Linked DNA regions of Homo sapiens. The protein of the gene in region 1 interacts with the protein of each later gene in a pairwise test. Each region holds a gene or a part of one and is shown in the gene's direction. Other genes may lie near its edges. The genes, in order: INTS4, MEIS3 and ZMIZ2.

Region 1 (10,336 bases):
TACAAAGAGGAAATTGTGTTTGTGAGTTTTAACCACAACTTTAGGTACTTTTTGTTTTATTTTGTTTTGGAATAGTCCATTTTGTTACAGAAGCATATGGGAATCACTAGAAAAAAACAACCATGTATAGAAGTCTTATGAGCATTTTCTGTGTCTTACTCATTTCTCATCTTTGTATCCTAGCCCTTAGTACTGCACCTAGCATATAATACGTGTTCAGGACCCACTTATTAGTGAATCAAGAAAGGGCTTCCTCGGATCAGTGGCTTTATTGTTTACATGTTCTGAGCATGCCAAGGGGTGGAAAACATGCCTCTGTTTTCAGGGTACTTTACAGAACCCAAACCTATACCCTAGGTGATACTTACTGAGCCCTTAAAATATGCCAGGCAGGGTCCCTATGTGGTTTACCTGTATTATCTCATTTAGTCCTAACAACTCTGTAAGGAAATGAGTATTATCTCCACTTACCAGGCGAGAAATTTGAGGTGCCAGGAAGTTGAGTTACTTATTCAAGATCACCCTCCAACTTAGTGGAGGGATCATTCACTACAGTTTGCTCTGAGACCTCTATCATTCCAAGCGTGTATCCTTAACTACTATATGATTTTAGCCTACAATCAACAGACCTGAGTATTGGTCCTATTCCTGCCCTCATTCACTTTGAGGCAAGTGAATCCACATTGCTGAATCTTACCTCTAAAATTCGAACAATGATATTTAGTCTACTTTAATCTTAATGATAACATTATTTACTAACTGACTTTTTAAAAAGTACTGTGGTCAGAATACTGAGATAAGTAAGACAATTTAATTTTCAAGAAGTTAATGTAGACAGACATGTGACTTCATCACATATATGTGGTGTCAGATTTAAGCCATAGTCCTTGTGATACTAAAGTCCATGTTCTTAGATCGACGTTAAGGTGGGTGGTATGTGAAACTGTGGGCATAGAGATCTCCCAGGGAGAGTTTATAGAATGAGAGGAGTAGAGAATAGAAGACAGCCTGAAGGAGAAGGAATCCATCTTGGACTTATCCCATGGCTCTTAATTTGATATGAGTTACTTTATATATATATATAAAATATGGGGCTTCAGTGTGTTGCTCAGGCCAGCCTTGAACTCCTGAGCTCAAATGATCCTCCCACCTCAGCTTCCTGAGTAGCTGGGACTTTGGTGTATGGCACTGCACCTGGCTGATGTGCAGTTTTTGTTTTTTTGTTTTTGGAGTTTTTTTTTTTTTTGAGACAGGGGCCCACTCTGTCACCAGGATGGAGTGTAGTGGCACGATCATGGCTCACTGCAGGCTCAAACTCCTGGGCACAAGTGATCTTCCTGCCTCAGCCTCCCAAGTAGATGGGACTATAGGCGTGTGCCACCACACTTGGCTAATTTGTTTTTTGTGTGTTTTGTTTTGAGATAGGGTCTCATTCTGTCACCAGGCTGGAGTGCAGTGGCATGACCTTGGCTAACTGTAATTTCTGCCTCCCAGGTTCAAGTGATCCTCCCTTCTCAGCCTCCCAAGTAGCTGAGACAACAGGCGCACGCTACCACACCCAGCTAATTTTTTAATATTTTTGGTAGAAACAGAGTTTTACCACATTGCATAGGCGGGCTCAAGTGATCTGCCTCCCTTGGCCTCCCAAAGTGCTGGGATTACAGGCGTGAGCCACTGTGCCCAGCCTGATGTGCAATTTCATTTGTTCTTTTTTCTAGAGGTTCGTATTGCTGCTGTGGAGGCCCTCTGCATGTTGGCCCAGTCTTCACCCTCTTTTGCTGAGAAGTGCCTTGATTTCCTAGTTGACATGTTCAACGATGAAATTGAGGAAGTACGTCTGCAGTCTATACATACCATGAGAAAAATCTCTAACAACATCACCCTCCGAGAAGATCAGCTTGACACTGTCCTGGCTGTGCTAGAGGTGAGTGTTTCTAATTTGTTACTCATTTCTTCATCCCTCACCCCCCCCTGTTAAAATCAGGTATTGTGCTAGGCATTGGTGACAGAACACTATATCAGGGAGCACAGTTCTGTTTTCTCACCATACCCCTTCCCTAAGATGGAAGAAATTGACTGTGAAACAGGAAATTTGAATAAGCTTGGTCTTTCTGTGATCAAGAAAGGATAGGATGCCTAGGGAATACATAGTGTCTAACCTGAATTGGCTGAGGTGAGGTTGGGAAGAAGGAGGAAGTGCTGTAGTGGACACTTGAAGGAGGAGTAGGACTTAACTAGGCTTTTTTTTGCCTTCTTCTTTTGAGACAGGGTCTCACTCTGTCACTCAGGCTGAAGTGCATCTTTTTTAAAGGAGAAGTGACACTGGTGGTAGGATGAAAGGGTACCAGACAGAGGGAGCAATGTCTAAAGATGCAGAGATAAGACAGAATATGATATATTCAAGGAACTAAAAAGAGTTTATTATAATGATAGTGTAGAGTTGAAGAGATGGAAGAGTGGAGGACGTGGCTATAGATAAGGTAGGGGCTAAATAATGAAGAGTTCTTTTCAACCTTTAATTTGATTTTATTCTTGTAGTGAATCATAGGCTGTTATAGCAGCAAGTGATCTTAGGGATTGATTCATTCTACCCTGGGAATTTTATAGAGAAAAAAATAAGTTGTTTGAGTTAGTGGCTGAACCAGAATGTAAACAGAGAGTTGCTTCCCAGGCCATACAGCTCTAGGTGGTTCTTGTATTATTTTTCTAAAATGTCTGGATTTTAATTGCAACTACTCAAGTTCTTCAGAGTATTCATAAATGGGGTTTGTCCTCTGGTTTCCTTTTTTGGGGAAGATGGGGTTCAGATGTGAAAGGGATAGTGATTAGGTGCTTAGTTTTTAGAACACTTGTAACAGATTTCTACTGCGTACTTTAAAGAATAGCTGGTGCTTTGGTTTTGAAGGTCCCTACCATTCTCTCAGCTGCTTAGCACTTCTACTGAGATTTTTCCTGAATTATAAATCTTTATAATTTTTTCATGTATTTTTTCCTAAAAATAAGTTTACATTCTATGTGCGGTTCTTCATGGGTGGCCTCATACATAGCCTAGCCACTCCTTTCCTTTTTAGCTTTCTTTTCCACCATTCCTCACCTTGAACTTTATGCTGAAGTCACTTTCCTACACATATTGCTTTTCCTCACAATTTTACCTTCAATGTAATTTTCCCCCACAGTTTGCAAAACTGCCACTTTAACCCAGGAGACGTCCACTTATTCCCACAGCCTATATTAGGTAACATATCCAGGAAGCCTTCCCTAACTGTTACTCCCAGCACTGGGTGGGCTAAATGCCACCACTCTATTCCCATAGCACCCTGTGTATACTGCTGTAGCATTTTTCAGTAATTCTCTATTTCATAAGACTGTGAGCTCCTCAAGGTGTCTTGACTTTTCTTTTCTTTTCCTTTCCTTTCCTTTTTCCTTTCCTTTCCTTTCCTTTTTTTTTTTTTTTGAGGCTGAGTCTCGCTCTGTTCCCCAGGGTGGAGTGCGGTGGTACGATCTTGGCTTACTGCAACCTTCACCTCCTGGGTTCAAGCAATTCTCCTGCCTCAGTCTCCCGAGCAGCTGGGATTACAGGCACGCACCACAATACTAATTTTTGTATATATTTTTTTTTTTAGTAGAGATCGTGTTTCACCATATTGGCCAGGCTGGTCTCGAACTCCTGACCTCAAGTGATCCACCCACCTTGGCCTCCCAAAGTGCTGGGATTATGGTGTGAGCCACCGTGCCCGGCTGACTCTTCATTTTTTTATTACCAATGTCTTGCAGCAGTGTCTGGCACAATTAGGTGCTCGGTAAGTGTTTGCTGAGTAGCTGAGCTATGTTCCAAGCTATGTTTTGATGTACAGAATTGTTCACAGGTATGCTTATTTGTGAGTACTTATGTATATAACTCACAAAGAATCCTTGCCTTTTAATTCTTTTCAGGAGTTCAGACCAATATAAACTTACAGTAGACTATTCTTCCACCCTGCTGTGTACTTCTCCCTTATATTTTCTGTGTCACTGGGCTTCATTGCTTTGAGCCTTACCTTGCTGACCCTTCCAGCTGGAATTTGCCTTTTTTTTTTCCTGCTATGTCAAGATCCTACCCTGCCTAGAAAAATTCACTTCTTTATTCAACAAGCACTGTCTATGTATTAGAAATATAGGGATATCAAAACAGGCAGGATCCCTGCTGTCATAAAACTTATATTCTAAAGAGAGGTGGAGTAAACAAACAAAATGATTTCAGATGGTGATAAATGTTTTGCAGAAGATAAACAGTATGATTGAGGAATGGGGAATTTCTCTGTAATTTGAGTGGTTAGTAAAGACTTTCTGAGGAGATGATGTTCAAGTTGAGTCTTGAATGATAAACAGAAGCTAGCTATGTGAAGACTGGGAGAATAACTTCAGGTAGAGGCAACAGCTAGTGGAAAGGCTCTAAAACACAAGTGAGCTTTGTTGTGTTTGCAGAATAGAGAGAAAGCCAGTAGGAGTGAACCACAGTGAGAAAGTAGAAATGTGGCATGAGATGAAGTCTGAGAGGGGATTAGGGACAGGTGGAGAGCCTTGTAGGCCATTTTAAGATGTCTGGATTTTATTCTAACATTATGGAAAACTGTTGCAGAATTTTATGGATAGGAGTGACATTTCGATTTGCCTCTCTTTTAATATTTCTCATTCTTGAAATCTTGAAATTCACTTCAGATAGATTGACTTTTTCCCTCACTCCTCCATTTAACACATACAGGTATACCTCTCTTTATTGGGCTTTGCAGATATTGTGTTTTTTTAATAAATTGAGAGATTGCGGCAACCATGCATTGAGCAAGTCTATCGGTGCCATTTTTCCAATAGCATGTGCTCACTTTATGTCTGTGTCACATTTTGGTAATTCTTGCAATATTTCAAACTTTTTCATTATTACATCTGTTACAGTGATCTGTGATCAGTGATCTTTGATGTTACTGTTGTAATTGTTTTGGGATGCCACAAACTGTGCCTGTATAAGATGGCAAACTTAATAAGTATGTGTGTTCTGAGTGTTCTGCTAACTGGCCATTCCCAGCCTCTCTCTTAGCCTTTCTTCTTAGCCTGTCCTTTTTCCTAGTTGCAAAAAGGCTCTTGTACCTTCAGCATCATGATTGAGTTCCAGATAGGATGGAAAAGGAAGGTTAAAGAACAAAGGGGATAAAGCTACTGCCTCTGGTCCTTTATCAATAAAATGAAAGATATTTCAGGAATTTCAGCTAAAAAACTTCCACATACTTTGTTACATGGCCACCCTAGATGGGAAGGTGGCTGGGTAGAAGGGGATGGTAGATAGAGGCTGAGTCTGCTAACCAACAGTAACTACTGTTATTATTACTTTTTTTTTAAAAGGATTCATCCAGAGATATTCGAGAGGCTCTTCATGAACTCTTATGCTGTACTAATGTTTCAACCAAAGAAGGGATTCATCTTGCATTGGTGGAGCTGCTGAAAAATTTAACCAAGTACCCTACTGATAGGGACTCCATATGGAAGTAATGACTTTTTTGCCCATTTACTCACTGAGTCCCATAATGTGGTAAATGTATAATGCTGACATTTGTTCCGTCCTTATAGATTGAGGATAGTACGGCCCTGAATTTTGCCTTTACTTTAGAAACCTGATTCAACTTAACCGAACTCTCAGGAATCTGATTCCTAAGCTGAGTATCACATTTTAGATTACTTACTAATTTGTGCATCTATCCACCTAGCAAATATTATGTGCCTGCTGTGTGCTGACTATGCACCAACCCTTGTGGTAGCTGTTACAAGTATAGAAATAAATTAATTAGATTTCCTCTTTCTCCTATATAGTGTTTTGTTTTGTTACTTTTTTTTTTTGAGACGGAGTCTCGCTCTGTCACTCTGACTAGAATGCAGTGGCGTGATCTCAGCTCACTGCAACTTCTGCCTCCTGGGTTCAAGCGATTCTCCTGCCTCAGCCTCTCGAGTAACTGGGATTATAGGTTGCATGCCACCATACCCCAACTAATTTTTGTTTTTTTTTTTAGTAGAGATGGGGTTTTACCATGTTGGTTAGGCTGGTCTTGAACTCCTGACCTCAGGTGATCCCCCTGCCCCGGCCTCCCAAAGTGCTGGGATTACAGGCATGAGCCACTGTGCCTGGCCTTATTATTTTTTATTCATTAAGTTCTGGTTTAGAAGGTGCACTAAATTGGCTGGGTGCAGTGGCTCACGCCTATAATCCCAGCACTTTGGGAGGCTGGGGCGGGTGGATCACCTGAGGTCAGGAGTTCAAGACCACCCTGGCCAACATGGTGAAACCTCATCTCTACTAAAAATGCAAAAATCTGCCGGGCCTAGTGGCACACGCCTGTAATCCCAGATACTTGGGAGGCGAAGGCAGGAGAATTGCTTGAACCCTGGAAGCAGAGGTTGCAGTGAGCCGAGATTGTGCCACTGCATGCCAGCCTGGGCAGCAGAGCAAGACTCAGTCTCAAAAAAAAAAAAAAAACCATAAACAATAATAAAAATATATAATTACCTTGCTTTTATAGTTCCTTATAGTTTATAAAGGGCCCTCATGTAGTTATAATAGCTAACATTGAGTTCTTACTATGTGACAGACACTTTGCTAAGTACTTTATGTTAGTTATTTAATGCGTATAGCAACTCTATGAAGTAATGACTTTTAATCTCATTTTGTAGATGAAAAAATTTACTTGCATAAGGCTACTTAGTTTCAGACAGATCTGTGATTTCAGGACTTCACCCAGGATATCAATCAGAATGTTTTTGCCCACAAATAAAAAAGACAATCTGATTAAAAATATCTTAGCCAATAAGTCTGTTTTTTCATAACAAGTGGTCAGAAGGTTGGTTTCAGGATTCGTCATTCAACAGGTTACCAGGGCTCTCTTTGGTTTCTCTGCAGTTCTCTTGGCTTTTTTTTTTTTTTTTTTTTTGAGACAGAGTCTCTCTTTATCGCCAGGGTGGAGTGCATTGGCATAATATTGGCTCACTGAACCTCCGCCTTCCAGGTTCAAGTGATTCTCCTGCCTCAGCCTCCCGAGTAGCTGGGACTACAGGCCCGTGCCACCATGCCCAGCTAATTTTTGTATTTTTAGCAGAGATGGGGTTTCACCATGTTGGCCAGGATGGTCTTGATCTCTTGACCTCCTGATCCAGCCACTTCGGCCTCGCAAAGTGTTGGGATTATAGGCGTGAGCCACCACACCCGGCCGGCTTTCTTCTCATAGTTGTAAGATGGCTGCCTCATAAGATAATATCTCAAGACAGAAAGGAAGGGTCATTCCCTTTCATGCATTGCTCTTTTGATTTGCAAAAACATCCCTGAGAAGCTCCCCAGCCAGCATACTCTCGTGCTCCATTGTCTAGAACTGGCTTACTTGCCCACCAGCAAACCAGTCACTGGAAAATGGGAATGGGATTGCCATGATGGGTTTAGACCAATAGTGGTTCAGCTCTTGGGCTGGACCTGCCTTTTCCGAGCACTTTGCTGCCTGCCTGATACCTGAGTAAAATCAGGGCTCTCTCAGGAAGAAAGATGGGGGAAATGGCTCTTGGTTAAATAACCAGTTCTTTTATCTTTATAATAACCAGTTTTTTTAGATGAATTAACCGAGTTCCAGAATAACTGGGTGACTTATCTGAAGTCATAGAGTTAGCAAAAGTATATGGTTGAGAATTTCCAATTCCAGTTCAGGTTTTCTGATTCCAGTTCCTAGTACTTTTCAAAGGACTAACTTTACTAATTTGTTGATGTGCATTCTTATTTGTTTGTTTCAGGTGCTTGAAGTTTCTGGGAAGTCGGCATCCAACCCTGGTGCTTCCCTTGGTGCCAGAGCTTCTGAGCACCCACCCATTTTTTGACACAGCTGAACCAGACATGGATGATCCAGCTTGTATCCTCTGTGCTTAGGATGGGCCCTGATGTGTTGGCAGGCAGCTTTGGCATCTCCTTCTGCAGTATAGCTAGGGTAGTCTGAATTTTCTTTTCTTTGCTTTTCTTTCTTTTTTTTTTTTTTTTTTGAAGACAGAGTCTCATTCTGTCACCCAGGCTGGAGTGCAGTGGCCTGATCTCGGCTCACTGAAACCTCTGCCTCCCGGGTTCAAACAATTCTCCTGCCTCAGTCTCCTGAGTAGCTGGGATTATAGGCGCCCGCTACCACACCCAGCTAATTTTTGTATTTTTAGTAGAGATGAGGTATCACCATGTTGGCTAGGCTGGTCTCAAATTCCTAACCTGTTGCTTGGGCTGGAGTGCAGTGGCACCACCCCAGCTCACTGCAACCTCCGCCTCCCGGATTCAAATGATTCTCCTGGCTCAGCCTCCCAAGTAGCTGGGATTACAGGTGCCTGCCACCACTCCCGGCTAATTTTTGTATTTTTAGTAGAGACGGGGTTTTACCTTGTTGCCCAGGCTGGTCTCAAACTCCTGACCTCAAGTGATCCACCCACCTCAGCCTCCCAAAGTGTTGGGATTACAGGCGTGAGCCACCATGCCTGTCCAGTATGTACTTTGATAGGCAATATAGTTGCTTACTTTATAGGCAAAATCATTTCCATTTTTTGTATTCTTGGCAGTCTCTGGCATTTTTAAAAACCTTTGGTAATTGGGGGTGTGGGTGGAGTAGGGGAATGTATTTTGTTGTTTGTATTTGCATTTCTTTGATTATTAGAAAATCATAGTCTCTTGATGGAGATTTTGGAGGTGGAAAGTGAGAGTGCCAGAATCTGGCCAACCTTTTATACTTCCAAGTTTACTTAACCCAGTCATCTATCAGATATTGCAGTTTTGGTACTTATTTTCAATGCTGCTAAAACCTGTCCAACAATGCCAGCATTGTTCTCAGATCACACCTTCAGGCACTATGCCTACCTCCGAGACAGTCTTTCTCATCTTGTTCCTGCCTTGAGGGTATGTTGAAAACATCTGTTGTCCTTGTTTTTATTTTGCATGGGGTAGGGTTATTTTTGTTCATGTTTTCCTTTGAGATGGGGGTCTTGTTATGTTGCCCAGGGCGGTCTCAAACTCCTGGGCTTAAGCCATCCTCCTGGCTCAGCCTCCCAAGTCACTGGGATTACAGGTGAGCACCACTGTGTGCAGCTTGTTTTTGGCTTTTTATTTTTTGTGCTTTGTGGTTATTAAATAGTAGAAAGCAGTCCATATATTCTCTGAAAACTTGTTTGTTCATTCTCTTTCTCTCTTGGGCTCTTTGCCATTGTTTTATACTTTTGCTTTTGTATCCTTTACCTTTTAAGATGATTCATTTTTTTTGGTGTCCCTGGGTTATTGATATTAGGCAAGAAGAAAGGAACCTGGAACAATAGATTATATTTTAGATCAAGAATTTAAATTGTTATATATATATATTTATTTATTTATTTTTATTATTATTACTTTTTGAGACGGAGTCTTGCTCTGTCGCCCAGGCTGAAGTGCAGTGGCACGATCTCGGCTCACTGCAAGCTCCACCTCCCAGGTTCACTCCATTCTCCTGCCTCAGCCTCCCGAGTAGCTGGGACTACAGGCGCCTGCCACCACGCCCGGCTAATTTTTTGTATTTTTAGTAGAGACAGGGTTTCACCGTGTTAGCCAGGATGGTCTTGATCTCCTGACCTCGTGATCTGCCTGCCTCGGCCTCCCAAAGTGCTGGGATTACAGGCATGAGCCACCACACCCAGCCTAAATTGTTATATTTTAACTATTACATATAGCTATGATTCTCCACAAGTGCTTATTTTTTAAAAATAAAACCTTTACTATTTTTAAAACCTAGAGTTATATAGAAGAAAATTTAAAAATAGATCATAATAATAATAGCAAACACTTCGTGAATGCTGTGGCTCAGGTACTCTTCCAATCTCTCTATTTGCATTAACTCATCCCTGCTTGGGTGACTCCAAATCACTTTATTTGGAGTAATATGTGTTTATTTAGAGGAACATTTATATATATGTGTGTATATATATATATGTGTATATATATGTGTATATATGTATATATGTATATATATGTATATATGTATGTATATGTGTATATATATGTGTGTATATATATGTATATATATGTGTATATGTATATGTATATATATGTGTATATATATATATGGTTAGAAAATTTAAACTTTATAGAAAATACAAAATGAGGCCAGGTGCGGTGGCTCATACCTGTAATCTAAGCATTTTGGGAGGCCAAGGCGGGTGGATCATCTGAGGTCAGGAGTTCATGACCAGCCTGGCCAACATGGTGAAACCTCATCTCTACTAAAAATACAAAAATTAACTGGGCATGGTGGTGGGCACCTGTAGTCCTAGCTACTCGGGA
Region 2 (10,240 bases), on another chromosome or scaffold:
TGAGTTTGATGACGAGGTTGTGCCCCAGACCCTGCCTAGGATGGTTGCGAACTGCATGGTGTATGCGCTGATTTATTGCCTAGAAATGTGAAATGGGCCTGGCGCAGTGGCTCACGCCTGTTATCCAAGACTTTGGGAGGCAGAAGTGGGTGGATCACTTGAGCCCAGGAGTTCGAGACCAGCCTGGCCAATGTGGTGAAACGCCGTCTCTACTAAAAATACAAAAATTAGCCAGGTGTGGTGGCAGGCACCTGTAATCCCAGCTACTCGGGAGACTGAGGCATGAGAATCACGTGAACCTGGGAGGCAGAGGCTGCATTGAGCCTAGATCATGCAACTACACTCCAGCCTGGGCGACAGAGTGAGACACTGACTAAAAATAAAGATAAAAATGTGAAATGTTCGGAATCCTGAGACACTTCTTGCCCCAAGGATTTTAGATAAGATGCCATAGACCTGTGTAAGGTCATCTTGTTTGAGCCCCTGTGTAGACAAACTCATCATTGAATACTGGCCACACACTGTCAGGACTATTATTGTCCTTCATTTTCCTTTTCTTTTTTTTGAGACGGAGTCTCACTCTGTCACCCAGGCTGGAGTGCATTGGTGTGATCTCGGCTCACTGCAAGTTCTGCCTCCCAGGTTCATGCCATTCTCCTGCCTCAGCCTCCCGAGTAGCTGGGACTACAGGCGCCCACCACCACGCCCAGCTAATTTTTTGTATTTTTAGTAGAGACGGGGTTTCACCATGTTAGCCAGGATGGTCTCGATCTCCTGACCTTGTGATCTACCCGCCTGGGCCTCCCACAGTGATGGGATTACAGGCATGAGCCATCGCGCCCGGCCCTTCTTTTCCTTTTTCTTTTTTTTTTTTTTTTGAGACGTAGTCTCACTTTGTCACCCCGGCCAGGCTGGAGTGCAGTGGCACAATCTTGGCTCACTGCAACCTCCCCCTCCCGGGTTCAAGCGATTCTCCCGCCTCAGCCTCCCGAGTAGCTGGGATTACAGGAACCCACCATCATGCCCAGCTAATTTTTGTATTTTTGGTAGAGACAAAGTTTCACCATGTCGGCCAGGCTGGTCTTCAACTCCTGACCTCAGGTGATCCGCCTGCCTCGGCCTCCCAAAGTGCTGGGATTATAGGTGTGAGCCACTGTGCCCAAGCCAGCCTGGTTTTTGTATTTTTAGTAGAGATGGGGTTTCACCATGTTGGCCAGGCTGGTCTCAAATGCCCGACCTCAGGTGATCTGCCTGCCTCAGCCTCCAAAAGTGCTGGCATTACAGGCGTGAGCCACCGTGCCTGGTCCTGTCCTTCATTTTCCAGTTAAGGAAACGGAGGCTCAGAGTGGGGAAGTGACCTGCCCAAGATCACACAGCTAGGAAGGAGGCAGGGACTGGCTTCCCATCCAGGAGTCCTAGCTCCAGAGTCCATGCCCAAAGCCTTGGCACTAACTTTTTTTTTTTTTTTGACACGGAGTCTTGCTCTGTCACCCAGGCTGGAGTGCAGTGGCGCAATCTCGGCTCACTGCAACCTCTGCCTCCCGGGTTCAAGCGATTCTCCTGCCTCAGCCTCCTGAGTAGCTAGGACTACAGGTGCATGCCACCACACCCGGCTAATTTTTTGTATTTTTAGTAGAGACGGGGTTTCACCATGTTAGCCATGATGGTCTTGATCTCTTGACCTTGTGATCTGCCTGCCTTGGCCTCCCAAAGTGCTGGGATTACAGGCGTGAGCCACTGCGCCCGGCCGCCTTGGCACTAACTTCTAACTCTTGTTTTCTAGAATAATATGTGGATTCGAGACCATGAGGATAGTGGGTCTGTACATTTGGGGACCCCAGGTCCATCCAGTGGGGGCCTGGCCTCCCAGAGTGGGGACAACTCCAGTGACCAAGGTGAGAATCTTGGGAGGTGGAAGGGAAACATGGGAGTCAACCAGAGGATTGAAGTTAGATCGCAAGTAAGACTTGTAGAGGGGCAGAGATGGCTGGGGTGTGGAGTGTTGTCTTGGGGGAGAGTTCTGGGGCCCTCTGGTCCTCCACTCTTCACTACCCACACACACAGCATGCCTGCCTTCCCTCAGGAGACGGGCTGGACACCAGCGTGGCCTCTCCCAGTTCTGGTGGAGAAGATGAGGACTTGGACCAGGAGCGACGGCGAAACAAGAAGAGGGGGATCTTCCCCAAGGTGGCCACCAACATCATGCGAGCCTGGTTGTTCCAGCACCTCTCGGTGAGAGCCCTGCTGCCCAGGTGCAGGGTGGGAATGGAGAGAGGGAGAAGGGTGGACCACAGAGACCGAAACCCCAGAGAAACCCAGAAGTGGGAGAAAGACGGCAGGAAATTTTTCGAGACTCTCATGGAGGTGGAGAATTGTGACAGGAGCCAGCAGCACTGAGTGTCACCTGAGTGCAGGTGCCGCTCAGGACACTTAACTCACTAAGTCCTCCCCGAAAACTGTCCATTAACCCGCGCATCAATCATCCACCTGCCCACCATCCACCCAGTGTACCCTCGGAGGGAGGGGCTACTATTATCTCCATTTAACAGGTGAGGAGGAGACTGAGGAACAGAGAGGTTAGGAGACTTGCCTAAGGTCACACAGCCAGAAGTGGATTCAAATGCAGGCAGTCTGGCCTTAACCACCGCACCATACTGCTTCAAGGACAGAGGAGAAAAATAGAGCCAGGAAGAGGCTAAAACAGAGAGACACAGAGATTCGGGGAGGACCAAGTCAGAGCAAGATGGAGACAGGGAGAGGCCGAGTCACAGAGGGACAGAGACAGACAGAAACTCGGAGGCAGGGACGGACTGAATCCCAGAGAGAGAGAGAGATACAGACAGAAACACACACACACAGAGATAGTGAGTCAGAGAGAGAATGTGAGAGCCACAAAGAGAGAAATGGAGGGCCAGACACAGTGGCTCATGCCTGTAATCCCAGCACTTTCGGAGGCCATGGCAGGAGGATCACTTGAGCCCAGGAGTTCGAGACCAGCCTGGGCAACATAGCAAGACCCCATCTCTAAAAAAAAAAATTAGCCAGGCATGGTGGCACACACCTGTGATCCCAGCTACTCAGGAGGCTGAGGCCGGAGGATTGCTTGAGCCAGGGAGATTGAGGCTGCAGTGAGCCATGAAGGCGCCACTGCACTCCAGCCTGAGTGACAGAGTGAGACCCTGTTTAAAAAAAAGAGAGAAAGAGAAAGAAAGAAATGGATAGGGAGGGCTGGGTGCGGTGGCTTATGCCTGTAATCCCAACACTTTGGGAGGCCGAGGCGGGCGGATCACGAGGTCAGGAGATCGAGACCATCCTGGCCAACATGGTAAAACCCTATCTCTACTAAAATACAAAAAATTAGTCGGGCATGGTGGCGCGCACCTGTAGTCCCAGCTACTGGGGAGGCTGAGGCGGGGAATCCCTTGAACCCCGGAGGCGGAGTTTGCGGTGAGCAGAGATCGCGCCACTGCATTCCAGCCTGGCGACAGAGCAAGACTCCATCTCAAATAAATAAATAAATAAATGGATAGGGAGAGGGCCACACAGAGACTCTGACAGATTCAGAGAGGGAGGGCCTGGGCTTTGCTTCCCTCCCCGACGCCAGTGAAGCCCCTCCCCCACGCCACAGGAGCCCCCTCCCCCAACACAGTCTCTCTAATCAGAGCTGGCCAGTTAACCTCTAATTGCTGGAACAGGCGGGGGCTGGCAGGCATGTAATTGCCCCAAGCCTGAGGCTCCCTTGGTCTCCATCCTGGGGAGCGCAGAGACGCTCAGAAGCGCCGGTTCTCCCAGACGTCTGCCTGGGCCTGGGCTCCCCATCCCCCGGACCCCGGTGGGCCAGACCTTGGGGTTCAGACTGCGGCCGGCCAGGCAGGCAGAGTGACTCTTGCTGGTGGCTGCAGCACCCGTACCCCTCGGAGGAGCAGAAGAAACAGCTGGCGCAGGACACGGGGCTCACCATCCTGCAAGTCAACAACTGGTGAGTGGCCCAGGAGGGCCCGCGGGCCGGCCCGGGGCGAGAGCCCGGGCGCTGTCCGCGGTGCTGACGGAGGCCCCGAGCCCCGCAGAGCCACTGCCCCTGCTCGCCCCGCTCTGCCTCCCCCGCCGCTGTCCTCCGGCCCGCTCTGTGTTCGTCTTGGCCTCTCTCCCACTCCCTCTTTTCATTCCCCTCCGTTTCCATGACCGCCTCCCAGGTTCATTAACGCCCGGAGACGCATCGTGCAACCTATGATCGATCAATCCAACCGCACAGGTACAGGGGGAAGGCGGGGACGGAGAGCCTGGGGTTCTTAGGAGGGCGTCAAAGCCGGGTCCCGGGCTTCCTGGGGCTCAGCCTGCACCTCTGAACCCCCTTCGCAGGGCAGGGTGCAGCCTTCAGCCCAGAGGGCCAGCCCATCGGGGGCTATACCGAGACGCAGCCACACGTGGCCGTCCGGCCTCCGGGTAAGCCTCGCCCCCTTAGCTAGGCCCCGCCCCTGCGCACCATGACCCACCTGTAAAACAAAGATGCCCACCTGAGATTCAATTCAAGCGGAATACAGTGTGTCACTTGCCTAGTGAGAAGCAGGTGATGCCAAGGCAGATTTCCTGGTCCCCCATCTTTTCCTTACAACCTCATTTCTTCCAGACTTCAAGCCCAATACCTCGGAAGGCTCCACTTTTTCTTAAAGGGCCAGCACCTTCTTATGACTCAGTCTATCCTGGTAGAGGGATCCCCTGGTGTAGGAAGGGGTGAGGGAGACTTAGAGGCATCTGGGGGTGTCTCTGAAAGACGCACTTACCCTCCTTTTTTTTTGTCTTCCAGGATCAGTGGGGATGAGTTTGAACTTGGAAGGAGAATGGCATTATCTATAGAGGCTGATGCAGGAGAGGTGTGAGGGTCTAAGGGCTGGGGATTGTGCAATTCTCAAACCTCCATTAGACCTCAGGACTCCAAGAGTGGGCACTTCCAGAGTAGTGGGTCAGCCTGGGTCCCTGTACTGTGGGTTCTCTGAGGCTTGATGGGAAGATATTCATCCATCTGTCCGTCCGTCCATCCATCCATCCATCCATCCATCCTCCTCCTCCATGTATCCATCCATCTACCCACTCACTCACCCATCCATATCTTTATCCATCCGTTACTCAATTACTCATTCACCCGCAATCCATCCATCCAAACCTAGTCCACCCACCTACCCACTCATTACCCATCTGACCACACATTCACCCACTCACTCCATTCATCTCTCCACTCGCCAACCCACTCATCCATCTACCTCCACACTGACCAACCACCCACACATCTACCCATTTATCTGTGCATTCACCCACCTCCCTACCCAGGCTTCCACCCACCTACCCATCAACTCACCCATCCATCCACCCACACATCCCATTATCCATATATCCACCCACCCACCACCCACTATCCATCCATCCATCCATACCTACATACACCCATTCATCTATGATACATCTCCAAACATAAACTGAGCCCTTGGCTGGGCACGGTAGCTCACGCCTGTAATCCCAGCACTTTAGGAGGCTGAGGCAGGTGGATCACCTGAGGTCAGAAGTTCGAGACCAGCCTGGCCAACATGGTAAAACCCTGTCTCTACTAAAAATACAAAAATTAGCCAGGTGTGGTGGCATGTACCCATAGTCCCAGCTACTCTGGAGGCTGAGGCAGGAGAATCACTTGAACCCAGGAGGCGGAGGTTACAGTGAGCCAAGATCAACCTGGGCAATAAAGTGAGACTCCATCTAAAAAAAAAAAAAAAAAAAAATTGAGCCCTCACTCCATCCTGACATGCCTCAGGTAGGGTCTGGATCTTGAGAAGATTCTGGTCTTGTGGGGAAGTTGGCAACCCCAGTGACAATCCAGTGTAACAGTTCAAACAATAAAACGTAGTTTCCCCATAGGAGGGAGTCATCAGCTATCTCTGGGGTATCAGGGAAGATTTCCTAGAGGAAGTGGCCTCTGGATGGGGCACTGAAGGATGAATAGGAGTCCACTGGGCAGAGTAGGGAGTAATGTGGAAGGGGGGCATTATTTGACTTTCCCAGGCCTTGAGTCTTCTGTGGCCTGGTATGATGGCGGCACTTTAGAGCATCTTCTCATTTAGTCCTTACAACGATCCCGAAAGGGGAGACTATTAACAATTTTAATTTCATAGATAAGAAGACTGAGGTTCAGAGAGAAGAGGTCACTTGCACAGGTCTACCCTGCTCACAAAAGCAGAGGGAACAGCATGTGCAAAGGCCCAGGGTAGGGAGGCAGCCTAGAGTTTCCAAAGCCCAGATCAGAGTTTGACTCTCTCTGGATTAAACCATTTGTGGCTCCCTAGTGCCATCTGGACAAAGTCCTAACTCCTTAGTTTAGCATCCATCTGTCCATCCATCCCCTGAGCCCCTCTGTGCCCAGCCCTGTGCTGGGTAATGTTGGGGACACAACAGTGACCATGACAGCCTCAGCCCTGCCCTCATGGGGCACAAAGTCTAGTGAAGGGGACAGACCCATCCCCAGATGGTGATGCCCCAGAACGGGCAGGGCTGGGATGGTGAAGCCAAGGAACTGGAGGAGCTCACAGGGGGCGGGTGTTGGACCTGGGATGGGGGGAGGTGTTTAGAGAGGGCTTCCTGGAGGAGGGGGCATCTGACCCAGACTAGAGGATTCAAGGAGGGCTGCCTGGAGGAGAGGACTTTGGAGGTGAGACCAGCAGAATGGGAGGAGTGAAGCAGGAGAGGAGCATCTGCAGAGGGAATAGCACGTGCCAAGGCCAGGAGAGCTTGGAAATCTCGTGGCTGTGAGACAGCCCCAGCCCCCTACACACAAGGAGGAAGTTCTCTTTGGACTGGGTTGAGGCAGGCGGCCGGACAGGTGGCTAATGAATTCAGGGCCAGCAGAAAAGCCCTGGGGATGAGAGTGGAGGCCTGCACAGGGCTTATGCATGGAGGCGGGTGCTGGAGGCCGAGCCTGGGAGAGAGATGGGCAGGCGTATCCAGGCCAGGTAGGGCAGTGGGCGACTCAGCTCTTTCATGGCCAAGTGTGGGTAGGGATGGTCTGGGGTGAGTGTCAGGGGACCTTTGGGGTCAGTAGTGATGGAGGGGTCTTCTCATCCCACTGCCTGGCTGCCCAGTGGGCTCTTTTCTCTGCTCCTTTCTGTCTCCTTTTCTGTCTCTCCACTCCTGATCATGGCTCACTGTAGCCTCGACCTCCCCAGGTTAAGCGATCCTCTGGCCTCAGCCTCCCAAGTGGCTGAGACTACAGGCGTGCGCCACCATACCTGGCTAATTTTTATTTTTATTTTTGTAGAGACGGGTCTCGCTTTGTTCCCCAGGCTGGTCTCGAACTCCTGGGCTCAAGCGATCCCCCTGCCTCTGCCTCCCAAAGTGTTGGGGTTACAGGCATGAGTCACCGCGCCCAGCCTCCTGTCTCTCTTTCTCTCTCTCCATTTCGTCTATTTCTTCATGACTTCTTCTCTCTCTTCCCATGTCGTTCTCTCTGACTCCCTCCAGGTCTGTCTCTGTCCTACTCTGCCTGTCTCTCTCCTTGTTCTCTGTCTCTGTCTGTAGGTCTCTCCCTCCCTCACCTCCACTCTGATTCTCTGTCTCCCTCTTTCTCGTCACTGCGTCTCTTCTCTCTGTGACCCTCCCACATCCCTGTGCCATTCCCCGCCAGCCACTCTCTCTGTGTCCCCCTCACATTGGGGCTGATGAGGCCTGCACAGATGGGCTGGGGTGGGGCCAGGCCCCCTGCCCGCTCCTGACTTGGCCTCTCCTCCCCTCTCCACAGACCCAGCCTCCGGCTGTGACCCCCAGCCTCACACCTGCCTCTGGTTCCCGCCTGGTCCTCCAGCTTCAGGACCCCACCTCCAAAGGCCCCTCTGCTCAATGCCTACCTCCCTAGGGCCCTGCTGGGACATGGGGGCCTGAGTGCCCATCCAAGGGCTCTCAAGGACACCGGCAAGGCCTCCAGGCCCTGAGCCCCACTTCTGCCTTCACCTCTGCCTGGGACCCGAGCTGGGCTCCTGGGCCTTGGTCCCCAGAAGATGGCGGCTAGGGCCTCGCCGCCAGGACAGAGAAGGGACGGGGTGGCTGGGCAGTCAGGGAAGGAGGGTCGCCCGGATCCGACATTTTGGAGAGATTCCTTCACTCTCCTGTCCCCCCTACCTCCCTTCTCTAATTTCTTCTTTTTTTTAATGATAAAGTCTTAAAAACACGGAGCCACCAACTGGAGTTCTTGTGTCTATCCCAAGATTTCAAATTCTTACCAATTTGAAGCTCGTAAATCACGAATAAGAATACTGATTGGCCGGCTGCAAGCACGATGGCTCACGCCTATAATCCCAACCCTTTGGGAGGCCAAGGCGAGTGGATCACTTAAGGCCAGGAGTTCAAGACCAGCCTGGCAACATAGTGAGACCCCATCTCTACGAAGCAAGCAAACGAATTGCTTGGGCATGGTGGTGCACGCCTGCAGTTTCAGCTACTTGGGAGCCTCCCAGAGTGCTGGGATTACAAACGAGCCACCAGGCCTGGCCAAGACTCCACCTCTTAACTAGAGGGAGCTGCAGAATTCCTGCAAGAGATGTGTGTGCAGGGGAGAATGAAGACTCAGGGCCACGCCTGCGTCACTTCACCAGCTGTGGCTGTCCAATCACGTCCTCTGTCCCATGGGAAATGAGCAGGTTAGGCAGGCACACCCTCACTTCCAAGGCTTCCGGACGGACGTGGGTTTGAATCTCGCCTCTGGAACGCAACAGCTATGGCACCTCGGGTTACGACTTCACCTGGCTGGGCCCCGGTTTCCACATCTGGAGAATGGGGAGAGCGGCCGTGCCTGTCTCGTAGGATGATTGTGCTGATGGTGGAGGTATTTCGAGGGACACATGGGGAACTGTGCCACGTGTGTCAGCGCCCATCACAGGCAGAGGCTGTCCTTTGTAACTAGGAAAACTGAGGCTCAGAAACCAGTGTGAGTCCCTTGGGGTTCTCAGTTTTCCAGATCTCTGTCCCCTCCACCCCCCAGAGAGAGAGACCACCAAGGCAGAGTGTGGATCGCTCCCCTGTTTGGCTCTGTCTCTCTCCCTCTGGTACCTTTTTTTTTTTTTTTTTTTTTTTTTTTTGAGAGGGAGTCTCACTTTCTTGCCCACACCAGGCTGGAGTGCAATGCTGGGATCTCAGCTCACTGCAACCTCCACCTCCTGGGTTCAAGCGATTCTCCTGCCTCAGCCCCCTGAGTAGCTGGGATTACAGGCATGCGCTACCACGCCCGGCTACTTTTTGTATTTTTAGTAGAGACGGAGTTTCACCATGTTGGCCTGGCTGGTCTTGAACTCCTGACCTCAGGTGATCCACCCACCTCCACTTCCCAAAGTGCTGGGGTTACAGGTATGAGCCACCGCGCCCAGCCATTCTTTCTGTCTCTGTCTTGTTCAGACCTTGTCTCTCTCTGTCCCCTTCCCCACTGGAAACCCACATCTTCGGGGCCTCCCCCTCCCTTCTCCTTCAGAGGCCAGGTGAGCTCTTTCCTTCAGACCCGGGCTGCTTCGTCTTGGCTCACTGCCTTCCAGTCCCCTCTCCCAAGTGCCCCTCAGCCCCTCCGCCATCCAAGCGCCCCCTTTGCCATCCTCTCCCCAGAGCCATCCTTGGACCTCTGAGTCTCTCGGGCACCCCCAACCACGTACACTGCTGCTCTGTGCTCAAGGCCCAAGGGGCACGTGTGTGGGTTTTTGAAGGACCCCGTGAAAAATGTGTTCCTGGACCCCCGGAGTCCCTTTGGGGTGGGCCTGGATGGAGAGATTTGCACAGAGACACACATCGCTACAAACAGACACACATGCAAATACGCACATGCACACTCGGAAACATACACACACATAAAGGATGCACAGAAGATATGCCACACTCAGCCGGGCGCGGTGGCTCACGCCTGTAATCCCAGCACTTTGAGAGGCCGAGGTGGGAGGATCACTTGAGGTCAGGAGTTCAAGACCAGCCTGGCCAACATAGCGAAACCCCGTCTCTACTAAAATACAAAAAATTAGCCAGGTGTGGTGGCACATGCCTGTAATCCCAGCTACTCAGCAGGCTGAGGCAGGAGAATCACTTGAACCCAGGAGGTGGTAGAGGTTGCAGTGAGCTGAGATCATACCACTGCACTCCAGCCTGGACAACAGAGCGAGATTCCGTCCCCCTCTGCCCCCCGAAAAAAAGAAAGAAAATATCCGCTGAGCAGACGAGTGAATGAACAAAA
Region 3 (10,181 bases), on another chromosome or scaffold:
TATTGTTCCTTGTGTAAGAGGCCTTATTGTAATTCCTGCCCTTAGGTCAAAACAGTCTTGATGTTATCATACCTCAATTGTCCTATACATCCCTTCAGGGTCACCCTTTCCCTATCCCATGTAAGCCCCTGATACACAGACAGGGCTTCAGCTCATGAGTTCCTATTAAATGTTTCTTTTGGAGAAACTGAATTTGTCAGCCTCTTTCTTTAACCTCTTAGCTTCCTCCGACTTTAGGGGCAGGCTTGCACAGACCTGCTTACCGAGAAATGAGACCATTTCCCCAGGCCTGACGTTCTCTGAGAGTCACAGACAGTGCTGGAGACTGAGCCTTTGTGTAGATCTGTCTTATTTTTTCATGATCAGATTCAGGTTGAACATTTCTGGCTGGAAATTCTACTTGAAGGAGTCTGTATCTTTTCTCTGAGTATCACATCAGGTACCCAGGATGTCAAATGGTCCCACTGTTGGTGTTGTTGACCTTGGTCATTTTGCTAAGGTAGTGTCTGACCAATGTTATTATAAAGGTTCCTTTCTCCCCGTATAATGAATTAGAGGCCTGTGGGAAGACTGTGTGCTCCGTAAAGGCTTTTCAGGAAACAAAGATGTTGGCATTGTGCAACTTTGTATGATGTTTTCAGTTAGCAAATTGTGACTGTCTGCTCATACCATTAAATATTCTTCAAAAACATGATTTCCAACCTGTGGGTGCGTTCTACTTAACTATTACCTACTAGGATGTAACTATTAGCTTGCTAACACAAGCTCCACGACAATGCAGATTTTCATCAGTTTTACTTACTGCCATGTTTCCAGCACTGAGAGTGGTATCTGGCACACAGTAGAAGCTCAACAGAAAATTGTTGAATGAATGAATACAGCTTGTGTGTAATTTTTCAATATCCTAATGTCACAGCAAACATCCTTGTAAATAAATCTTTGAAGTATTTATTTTGTGAGAAACACAGATAATGCTTGTAAGGGAAATGTTTATGTTGATAATGTGAAAAAATAAGAATGCAAAATCATACATATGCCATATTCTCCACAACATCAAGATATGCAAAGAGAACCATCTGGGAAAAAAACAGAGCAAACAATTGACTGGAATTATCTCTGAACAGTTTTAAGGTATTTTGAACATTTCTCTGTATTTTCCACAATGAGAATATACCGCTTGTATGCAAAGGAGCAGCAGCACCTTTCTCTTTTTTTTTTTTTTTTGAGATGGAGTCTCGCTCTGTCGCCCAGGCTGGAGTGCAGTGGCGTGATCTTCGCTGACTGCAAGCTCCACCTCCTGGGTTCACGCCATTCTCCTGCCTCAGCCTCCCAGGTAGCTGTGGCTACAGGGCCCGCCACCATGCCTGGCTAATGTTTTGTATTTTTAGTAGAGACAGGGTTTCACCATGTTAGCCAGGATGGTCTCGATCTCCTGACCTCGTGATCCGCCCACCTCGGCCTCCCAAAGTGCTGGGATTACAGGCGTGAGCCACTGCGCCCGGCCTACCTTTTTCTTTTTAAAGTTAGTTTTGCAAGTCAAGAGTCATAGTAACTGGGGGTACCCAAACTGGTTAAAAACCAAATTCAGGTTAAGGCCACACCAACTGTAGGAGACTGTGGACTCGCAGGAGCCCCTGGACGCTGGGCTAGGCTGATTACATTTAGGATATCAGGTTCCCTTTCTGGTGTCACATTTTAAAAGCGATATTGTCTAACTGGTGCCTGTCTAAAGGAGAGTGGCCAGTTGGTACAGGATCTGAAAATTGTGTTACTGTTAACACTTAAGGAACTGGGAGCATTATTCCTCCAACAGAAGACTGGGGGATTGAGAAGTTGCTTTTAATATTTGAAGAGCTGTCAAATAACAAAGTGATGATTCTTATTTTATGCACTTGTAGAGGAAAAGCTTCAATAAGGCAGTTTTTTTATTCTAGTAAATGAGGAAGACTTTTTTTTTTTTTTTTGAGACAGAATCTCACTCTGTCGTCCAGGCTGGAGTGCAGTGGTGTGATCTCGGCTCACTGCAACCTCCACCTCCCGGGTTCAGCAATTCTCCTGCCTCAGCCTCCCGAGTAGCTGGGACTACAGGTACACACCACCATGCCCGGCTAATTTTTGTACTTTTAGTAGAGACAGGGTTTCACCATGTTGGCCAGGCTGGTCTCGAACTCCTGACCTCACGTGATCTGCCTGCCTCGGCCTCCCAAAGTGCTGGGATTACAGGCGTGAGCCACCGCGCCAGGCAACTTTTTTTTTTGGGGGGGTGATGGTGGGGGGATAGAGTCTCGCTCTGTCACCCACGGTGGAGTGCAGTGGTGCGATCTCAGCTCACTGCAACCTCTGCCTCTCGGGTTCAAGCGATTCTCCTGCCTCCGCCTCCCGAATAGCTGGGAATACAGGTGCATGCCACCACACCTGGCTAATTTTTGTATTTTTAGTAGAGTAGGGTTTCACGCCACCATGCCTGGCTAATTTTTGTATTTTTTAGTAGAGACAGGGTTTCACCATGTTGGCCAGGCTGGTCTCGAACTCCTGATCTCAGGTGATCCACCCATCTTGGCCTCCAAAAGTGCTAGGATTACAGGCGTGAGCCACTGTGCCCGGCCTCAAGGAAGACTTTCTTAACAATTCATCATATAGTAGAAAATGAAAACATTCCCTAGAAAGGAGTGGACACCAGGTGGCCTTTCCCAGGGGAGCAGGGCAGGAATTATTGAAGCAGTTAGGAGGTGAGAGAGATGCCTGCCCTGGGGGCACCTGGGATGCTTGGCGTGGCCACTTCCAGCATCCTCCACAAACCTGCCTGCAACTCCCCCATACATGCAGCCTCTTCCGAGACAGAGGAATGGTCAGGGTCCCCTGGTGCCTGCCTCCCCCTTCATTTGGGTCTCTTCTTCAGGGCCAGCTCCACAGAGAATCCGTCCCTCATACCTCATCACTCCCTCCCCATTCTCTGGCCCTGATTTAGTTTTCTTCCTAACACTCTTTCTGACAGACACACTGTTACCTGTTAACTCATTTCCTTCTGTTTGTCCCCTCTAACATGCTTGCTGTATGGATGGAGGGGCCTTATTCTCCTGGTTCCTGGGGACAGACCAGTGTTCACAGACCCCAGACCAGGGACTGTTGTACAGCAGGCCTGCCATATTTGTTCAATGAACGAATGATTCCCAAAAGAAATAGAGCACAGAGTTCAGAGGCGGCCTTCAGGGAAGAAATTTCAACAATGTCAAAAATTAATTGTGGAGTATCCATTGATAGATGAATGGATAACTTAAATGTGGAATATGCATACAATGGAATATTATTCAGCCATAAGAAAGAAGGGGCTGGGCGCCGTGGCTCACGCCTGTAATCCCAACACTTTGGGAGGCCCAGGCAGGCGGATCACGAGGTCAGGAGATCGATTCCATCCTGGCCAACATGATGAACCCCGTCTCTACTAAAACACACACACAAAAAAATTAGCCAGGCGTGGTGGCGTGCCCCTGTAGTCTCAGCTACTCAGGAGGCTGAGGCAGGGGAATCGCTTGAACCTGGGAGGTGGAGGTTGCAGTGAGCCGAGATTGCACCACTGCACTCCAGCCTGGCGACAGAGTGAGACTCCGTCAAAAAAAAGAAGGGAAGGGAAGGGGAGGGAAGAAGGAAGGAAAGAAGGAAGGAAAGAAAGAAAGAAAGAAAGAGAGAGAGAAAGGAAAGAAAGAAAGAAAGAAAGAAAGAAAGAAAGAAAGAAAGAAAGAAAGAAATTCTGACACATGCCACAACATGGATGGAAGTGAGGACACTGTGCTAACTAAAGTAAGACTGTCACAAAAAGACATATAATGTATGATTCCACTTATACGATGTCCTTAGAGTAGTCTAATTTAGAGACGAATAGTGAATGCCAAAGGCTAGGAGGAGGAAAGAATGGGGAGCTAGTGTTTACTGGGTATGGAGTTTCCATTTGAGAAGATGAAAAAGTCCTGGAGACGGTTGGTGGTTGCACAAGAATGTGAATGTACTTGGTGCCACAGAACTACACTTGGAAACAGTTAAGATGGTAAGTTTTACGTTATGTGTATTTTACCACAATTAAGAAAAATTAATTATGGGTAGTTGAGAGAATGTGGTCTTCCTCAACTTACGGTAGGAAAAGTCAAGAATAACTTAAAGGCTGATAATAGCATTTCAAAGATCGAAACTGATCAGAGAGGCTATTCCATCAGGCTAGACTAGCTCAATAGTGACTTTTTCCAGAAGGAGAACCACTGGGAAGAGAGAACTGAGCAGTGAGGACAGCGAACTTGTTAAGTTTAGTTTTCTGCTTTAACGAGGGGCTTCCGGAGTCCTTTAATAAGATCCCCTCCCAAAAGTGGCACCCTGGGTCTCTCTGTCTCCCAGTCGTGTCCCCGCCCGCCGGGCCAGAGCAATGGACTCCCAGGAAGCAGGGGGGGCGCGGGCGGGGCGCGGGCGGGGCGGGTGGGGGAAGGGCAAGGACTCACTCTTCCTTTCCTCCTCCGCCGGGGCCCGCCCCGAGCCCTGGCCCCACCCCGGCTCTCTGGATCCGCCTCCTCCTCCCGACCCCGCCCCGGCACCTTGGCCCCGCCTTCCACTCGGCCCCGCCCCGGCGTCCTGGCCCCGCCTCCGCCGCCCGGCCCCGCCCCGCTCCCGGCGGACTGCGAGCAGGAAGAGCGCAGTGGCTCTGCCGACGCCGCGTTCAGAAAGGTGTGGAGGGGGCTGGGGGCGCAGGTCGCGATCAGGCTGCGTCTCCTGCCCGCCCAGCCACCTGCGGCCCTGGCCCCACCCTGCCGCTTTGGGCCGCTCGGGCTCGCGGCCGCCCCCGCCCCGAGCGCCGGCTCGGGGCTCTGCTGCTCTGGCCTGGGAGGCGGGGCCGGCTGCGCGGCGTCATGCATATGCATGAGCGGCGCGGCGGCGGCTCCATTGTGCCCTCGGAGCGGGCGGCGGCGCGATGGCGCGGGTGGCGGCGGCCCCGGGGCGGCGGGCGGCGCGGAGGGCGGGCTGAGCGCATGGAGCGGCGCGGGCCGGGGGCCGCCACGGCGAGGGGCCGGGCCAGGCCGGGCGGAGGTGAGCGGGGTCCTGGGGGTGGCCCCTGGCAACGCCGCCAGCAGGCAGGTGTGGGCCGGCGGGGGCAGGCAGGTGCGGCAGGTGCGGGCCGGCAGGTGCGGGCGGGCAGGCAGGTGTAGCTGGTCGCCCGGGGCGCCCCGGTTCCGCTGCGGCGCCACGGTAGGGTTCACAGCTGGGCTGGGGCTAGAGGCTCTGCCGCCCACCTGCCGGCACCTGCCACGCGTGCGTCGTGGTCTTGGGCAGGCTCGGCCCCGTGGGCGTCAGGGTCATCCAGCCCTCCCCTGAGTCTTTGTTGGAGGCTGGCCGAGGGGTGTAAGCGGCGCTCGGGGTTCTCCTGAGCGATGAAGGCTGGCCGGGCCTTCGCTCCAACCTGATCGTTCCTAGCTTTGGGGCCAGGCAGTCTCACCTACATGGTACGCCCCTCCGCTCCTACTTACGTGCCCACCAGCACGGCGATGTGGGGGCCGTCTGAGGCCGTCACCTGCTCGCGGAGGAGCTGTTCCGCTCCTGGGCTGAACGACGCTGAGCGGCCAGCCCCCAGCTGCCAGTTTTGATGGGGACACCCCTTTCCAAACTGGACATACTGAAGCTCAGGCGTGAGGATGCCCTGCTCCCCTGAGGTGCCTTGTCTTCCCTAGTGCCAGGTGTCCTTCACCGCGGCACCCCCACCCGGTGCCTTGTTTACCCCTCCACCTACCGTGTCTCTCCTCCCATTCCCTGGACCCTCTGCCCTGCAGTGTTCTGCCTCTCCTTCTCCCTAGGGTACCCTCTTTCCAGTATTACAGAACATCCATGGTGGTGTCTTTAATTTGTGTCATCGCAGATTTCACAGGGACACACACGGAACATGTGACTTGGTCTGAGACCGTGGTGATTACGGATAGGATGGACACAGACTCACCACCAAGTTCTGGCAAGCTAGAACCAGAGGGCATCCCTTGATGCTTAGTGTGGAAACAGGAGAAGTGAAGGAATCTTAACTTCCAGAGGTACTGACCTCTAGCCCTTGTCATGCCCAGGGGATAGTTACAAGCTGGAAGTGTAAATGAAGAGAACAAGCAGGTGACAGTTGCCGGTTGTAGATTTCTGAAGGACAGGCCTAAGATGTTTGGGGAGCATCCTGATTATTGGGATTGAGCTCCCAAGGGCTGATGACATGAAGGTGGTCATGTGTCCTCAGTCCTAGGATGCTACCAGATATCCATCTTACACATTGTAAACTGATGCCAGGTTAAGGTTGTCCCTTCAGCTGTTCACTGAAATGTCTCATGCCTGGGCCATTGCTTATTCCTGGACTTTTTGATGAACTCTGCATCCTGACTTAGCCCCACGCTTAGACATTTTAGTACTGTGGCCTTACAGGTAGAGGGGGCAGGACTTTCAGCTACCTGTATATGTGAGTACCCCACTTTTTGCTACCAAGGACCCCGCTCCTGCAACATTCCACAGCCATCATTTCTTCAATACCCTTTGACTCCATTGTCACCTGGGTTGGATCCTGACCCTGCAATCTTGGAGACAGTGAGTCCTGATGTGTGACCTATTGAGAAGCGTTGCCTGCCACAGGGCCCACTTGCTGGTCCTGCTCCTAGCTGACTAGGCAGGCAGAGAGGTGGCATGGAACAAGGCTCAGGAGGTCAACCAGGAGACTTGGGGGTGCAGCTACTCTGGGACATTTGGGGAAGAGAGGTCTGGGGTAGTGAGTTCTGTAACTCTGTCTAGAGGAAGATGTGATCTGACCCCCGAGAAAGCCTTGTGGCCCTCTAGACTGACCTTGTCCATCTCTCAAGGGGTCCTAGCTTCCAGCTGGAGTTAGTTTACAAGGAAAGCGCCAGGCACTAAGACCCTTGGTGGGCATGGGCCTTGCATGATCTGGGATCCAGATTCCAGGCTCCAGGCTTGTTCCCAACCCAGACTCAAAGCCAGGAGATGAGAAGAGGATCTGCACACACACAACGCAGAACACTATCCTATCATCAGGGGCACAGGGTCAAGGATACCAGACCTGGAGACTGGAAGTCTTTTCAGAGAGACTGTCCTCAGAGAGGAGACCAGAGGCATGAGTTCGGGTCGGCAGGAAATCCCCCTGTGCAGTGAAGAGTAAGCTCAGAGGGAACTGGAAATCTTTGTGGTCTCTGTCCACAGCAGAGAACCATCAGGGGTGGAATTCCCCAGGCTCATGTGACATAGGAGCCTGCTGTGGGCTCCTCCCCTCCTTGTACCTGCCCTGTGCTCCTTCTCCCCAGCTCACTGCATTTCCTAGATCTGAGGTTCTCAAACTACAGTTCCTGGACCAGCAGCAGCAGTAGCTGCAAACTTGTTAGAAATTCTGGGCTTAGGCCCCAGCCCATCCTACTGACTTCAGGTGGGGCTGGGCAGCCTGTCATCACCAGCTGCGAGCTGGTTTTGATGTGCTGCAGTTGGGGAGCTGCTGCCCTAGGTGACCTAAAATGAGGCAGTGCTGCACAGAGTGCTGCCTGCACTTTGAGGCCTTTGACCACGGGCGGGGGAGGGGGCACATCTGCTTGCCTGCCAGATTCCCTCTCTGTTCTTGGGACAGCAAAGTGGCCAGCCAACCCAACCAGCTTTCTAGTGGGGAAAGATTGTCACAGCAGTTCTGCGGAGACAGAAGGCTGGTGGTAGCAGTTGTATTGTAATTAAACTTTTTATTTTGAAATTATTGGCTGGACACAGTGGTGCTCACCTCTAATCCCAGCACTTTGGGAGGCCGAGGTGGGTGGATCACTTGAGGTCAAGAGTTCAAGACCAGCCTGGCCAACATGGCGAAACTTCATCTCCACTAAAAATACAAAAATTAGCCAGGCATGGACTATGGTGGTGTACACCTGTAGTCCAGTTACTCAGGAGGCTGAGGCAGGAGAATCGCTTGAACCTGGGAGGTGGAGGTTGCAGTGAGCCTAGATCGTGCCACTGCACTCCAGCCTCGGTGAAAGAGCAAGATTCCATCTCAAAAAGAAAAAAAAAAAATTAAAGATTCATGTGCATTATAAGAAATGACACAGAGAGATTTATTCTGTCCTTTACCCAGTTTGCCCCAATGGTAACATCTTGGAAAACTAGTACAACATTGCACCAGGACACTACACTGATACAGTAAAGAGGTTACAGCCTGTTGCCTTCTATTTTTTTTTTTTGAGATGGAGTTTCACTCTTGCTGCCCAGGCTGGAGTGCAATGGTGCGATCGGCTCACTGCAACCTCCACCTCCTGGGTTCAAATGATTCTCCTGCCTCAGCCTCCTGAGTAGCTGGGATTACAGGCGCCCACCACTACGCCCGGTTAGTTTTTGCCCAGCTAATTCTTATGTTTTTAGTAGAGTTGGGGTTTCACCATGTTGGCCAGGCTGGTCTCGAACTCCTGACCTCAAATGATCTGCCCACTTCAGCCTCCCAAAGTGCTGGGATTACAGGCGTGAGCCACCGTGCCCAGCCTGTTGCCTTCTTATATTCACGCCCACCTTCCTCCTGCCAAAATTACAGAAATGGAGAAGAGATTAGTACCTTTCTCTTTACCCCCACATTTAACCCCTGGCAATCACCAATCTGTTCTCCATTTCCCTAATTTTGGTGTGTCAAGAATGCTAAATAAAGGAATCGTACACCGTGTAGCCTCTTGGGATTGGCTTTTTCCACCGAGCATTAATTCTCTGGAGATTCATCCAGGTTGTTGCATATATCAGTAGTTCATTCCTTTATATTGCATCCGGGCTATGGATGTACCACCGTTGATTTAACTCTTCATCCATTGAAGGACATCTGGGCTGTTTCCATTCCATAGCTCTTGCAAATAAAGCAGTTATAAACATTTGTGTACAGGTTTTTATGTGAACATAAGTTTTCATTTCTCTGAGATAAATGCGTACAAGTGCAGTTGCTGGGTCATAGTAGGGTAGCTGCTTGCTTAGTTCCATATGATACGGCCAGACTGTTTCCCAGAGTGGCTGTACATTTTACATTCCCACTAGTAATGTGTGAGAGATCCAGTTTCTCCTTGCCAGCATTTAGTGATGTCACTATTTTTTATTTTAGCCATTCTGATGGATGTATAGTGATATCTCACTGTGGTTTTAATTTGCATTTCCCCACTGACTAGTGATGCTGAGCATCTTTTCTTATGCTTATTTGCCATCTGTATATTCTCTTTGGCAAAGTGTCTCTTTATGTTTTTTGCTTATTTTCTAATTGGAGTTTTTAATTTTAATTTTTTTTTTTTTTAGTTTTGAGAATTCTTTTTTTGTTTTGTTTTGTTTTTTAAATCATGGTTCACTCTGTCATCCAGGCTAGAGTACAGTGGCATGATCATGTCTCACCCCAGCCTCCACCTTCTGGGGTCAAGTGATCCCTCCACTGCAGCCTCCTGAAAAGCTGGGACCACAGGTGCATGCCACCACGCCCAGCTAATTTTTAAATTTCTTGAGGAGTCGGGGGTCTCACTCTGTTGCCCAGACTGATCTTGAACTCCTGGGCTCAAGCAGTCCTCCTGCCTCGGCCTCCCAAAGTGCTGGGATTATAAGTGTGAGCCACTGTGCCTGGCTGAGAATTCTTTATATGTTCTAGATACTAGTCCTTTGTTGGATATGCAGCTTGCAAATATTTCTCCTGGCCTGTAACTTATCTTTTCATCCTCTTAGCAGGGCCTTTCCCGAAGGAAAAATTTTAATTTTGATGAAGTCCAGTTTATCAGTTTTTTTCTTTTATGGATCATGCCTTTGGTATCAGGTCTAAGAGCTCTTTGGCCTAGATCACAAAGATTTTCTCCTATATATTTTCCTGAATATTTTATAGATTTATGTTTTACAGTTAAATCTATAAACCATTTTGAGTTACTTTCTGTATAAGGTGTGAAGTTTAGGTGTTTTTTGTTTGTTGTTTTGATGCCCAGTTGCTCCATTGTCCCAGCACCATTGGTTGGAAAGGCTGTCCTTCCTCCTTTGAATTGCTCTCGCACCTTTGTCAGACATTGTTTGGGCCTATTTGTGCAAATCAATTTCAGATTCTCTGGTCTCGCCTGTTGGCCCATGGTTCTGTTCCCATGTTGGTACCACACAGTTTTGATTACCATATCTATATTCTAAGTCCTAAAATCTGTGTATGG

What was found.
Region 2: the proteins of INTS4 (region 1) and MEIS3 interact in binary tests that used the Homo sapiens proteins (3 or more experiments, as listed by UniProt).
Region 3: the proteins of INTS4 (region 1) and ZMIZ2 interact in binary tests that used the Homo sapiens proteins (3 or more experiments, as listed by UniProt).

What each region holds. Positions count from the first base shown.
Region 1 is NC_000011.10:77,919,930-77,930,265, reverse strand, and holds part of INTS4 (integrator complex subunit 4), read left to right. Parts: intron 1-1,718; coding exon 1,719-1,924; intron 1,925-5,373; coding exon 5,374-5,516; intron 5,517-5,598; coding exon of another isoform or gene 5,599-5,620; exon of another isoform or gene 5,621-6,815; intron 6,816-7,794; coding exon 7,795-7,910; intron 7,911-8,792; coding exon 8,793-8,926; intron 8,927-10,336. UniProt on the Homo sapiens protein: Component of the integrator complex, a multiprotein complex that terminates RNA polymerase II (Pol II) transcription in the promoter-proximal region of genes.
Region 2 is NC_000019.10:47,401,091-47,411,330, reverse strand, and holds the end of MEIS3 (homeobox protein Meis3), read left to right. Parts: intron 1-1,783; coding exon 1,784-1,895; intron 1,896-2,083; coding exon 2,084-2,232; intron 2,233-3,695; coding exon of another isoform or gene 3,696-3,902; coding exon 3,903-3,979; intron 3,980-4,193; coding exon 4,194-4,252; intron 4,253-4,359; coding exon 4,360-4,443; intron 4,444-4,804; coding exon 4,805-4,854; 3' UTR 4,855-4,871; exon of another isoform or gene 4,872-5,903; intron 5,904-7,777; coding exon of another isoform or gene 7,778-7,917; 3' UTR 7,918-8,207; downstream 8,208-10,240. UniProt on the Homo sapiens protein: Transcriptional regulator which directly modulates PDPK1 expression, thus promoting survival of pancreatic beta-cells. Also regulates expression of NDFIP1, BNIP3, and CCNG1.
Region 3 is NC_000007.14:44,743,925-44,754,105, forward strand, and holds the start of ZMIZ2 (zinc finger MIZ domain-containing protein 2), read left to right. Parts: upstream 1-4,922; 5' UTR 4,923-5,067; intron 5,068-5,890; exon of another isoform or gene 5,891-6,056; intron 6,057-6,981; exon of another isoform or gene 6,982-7,167; intron 7,168-10,181. UniProt on the Homo sapiens protein: Increases ligand-dependent transcriptional activity of AR and other nuclear hormone receptors.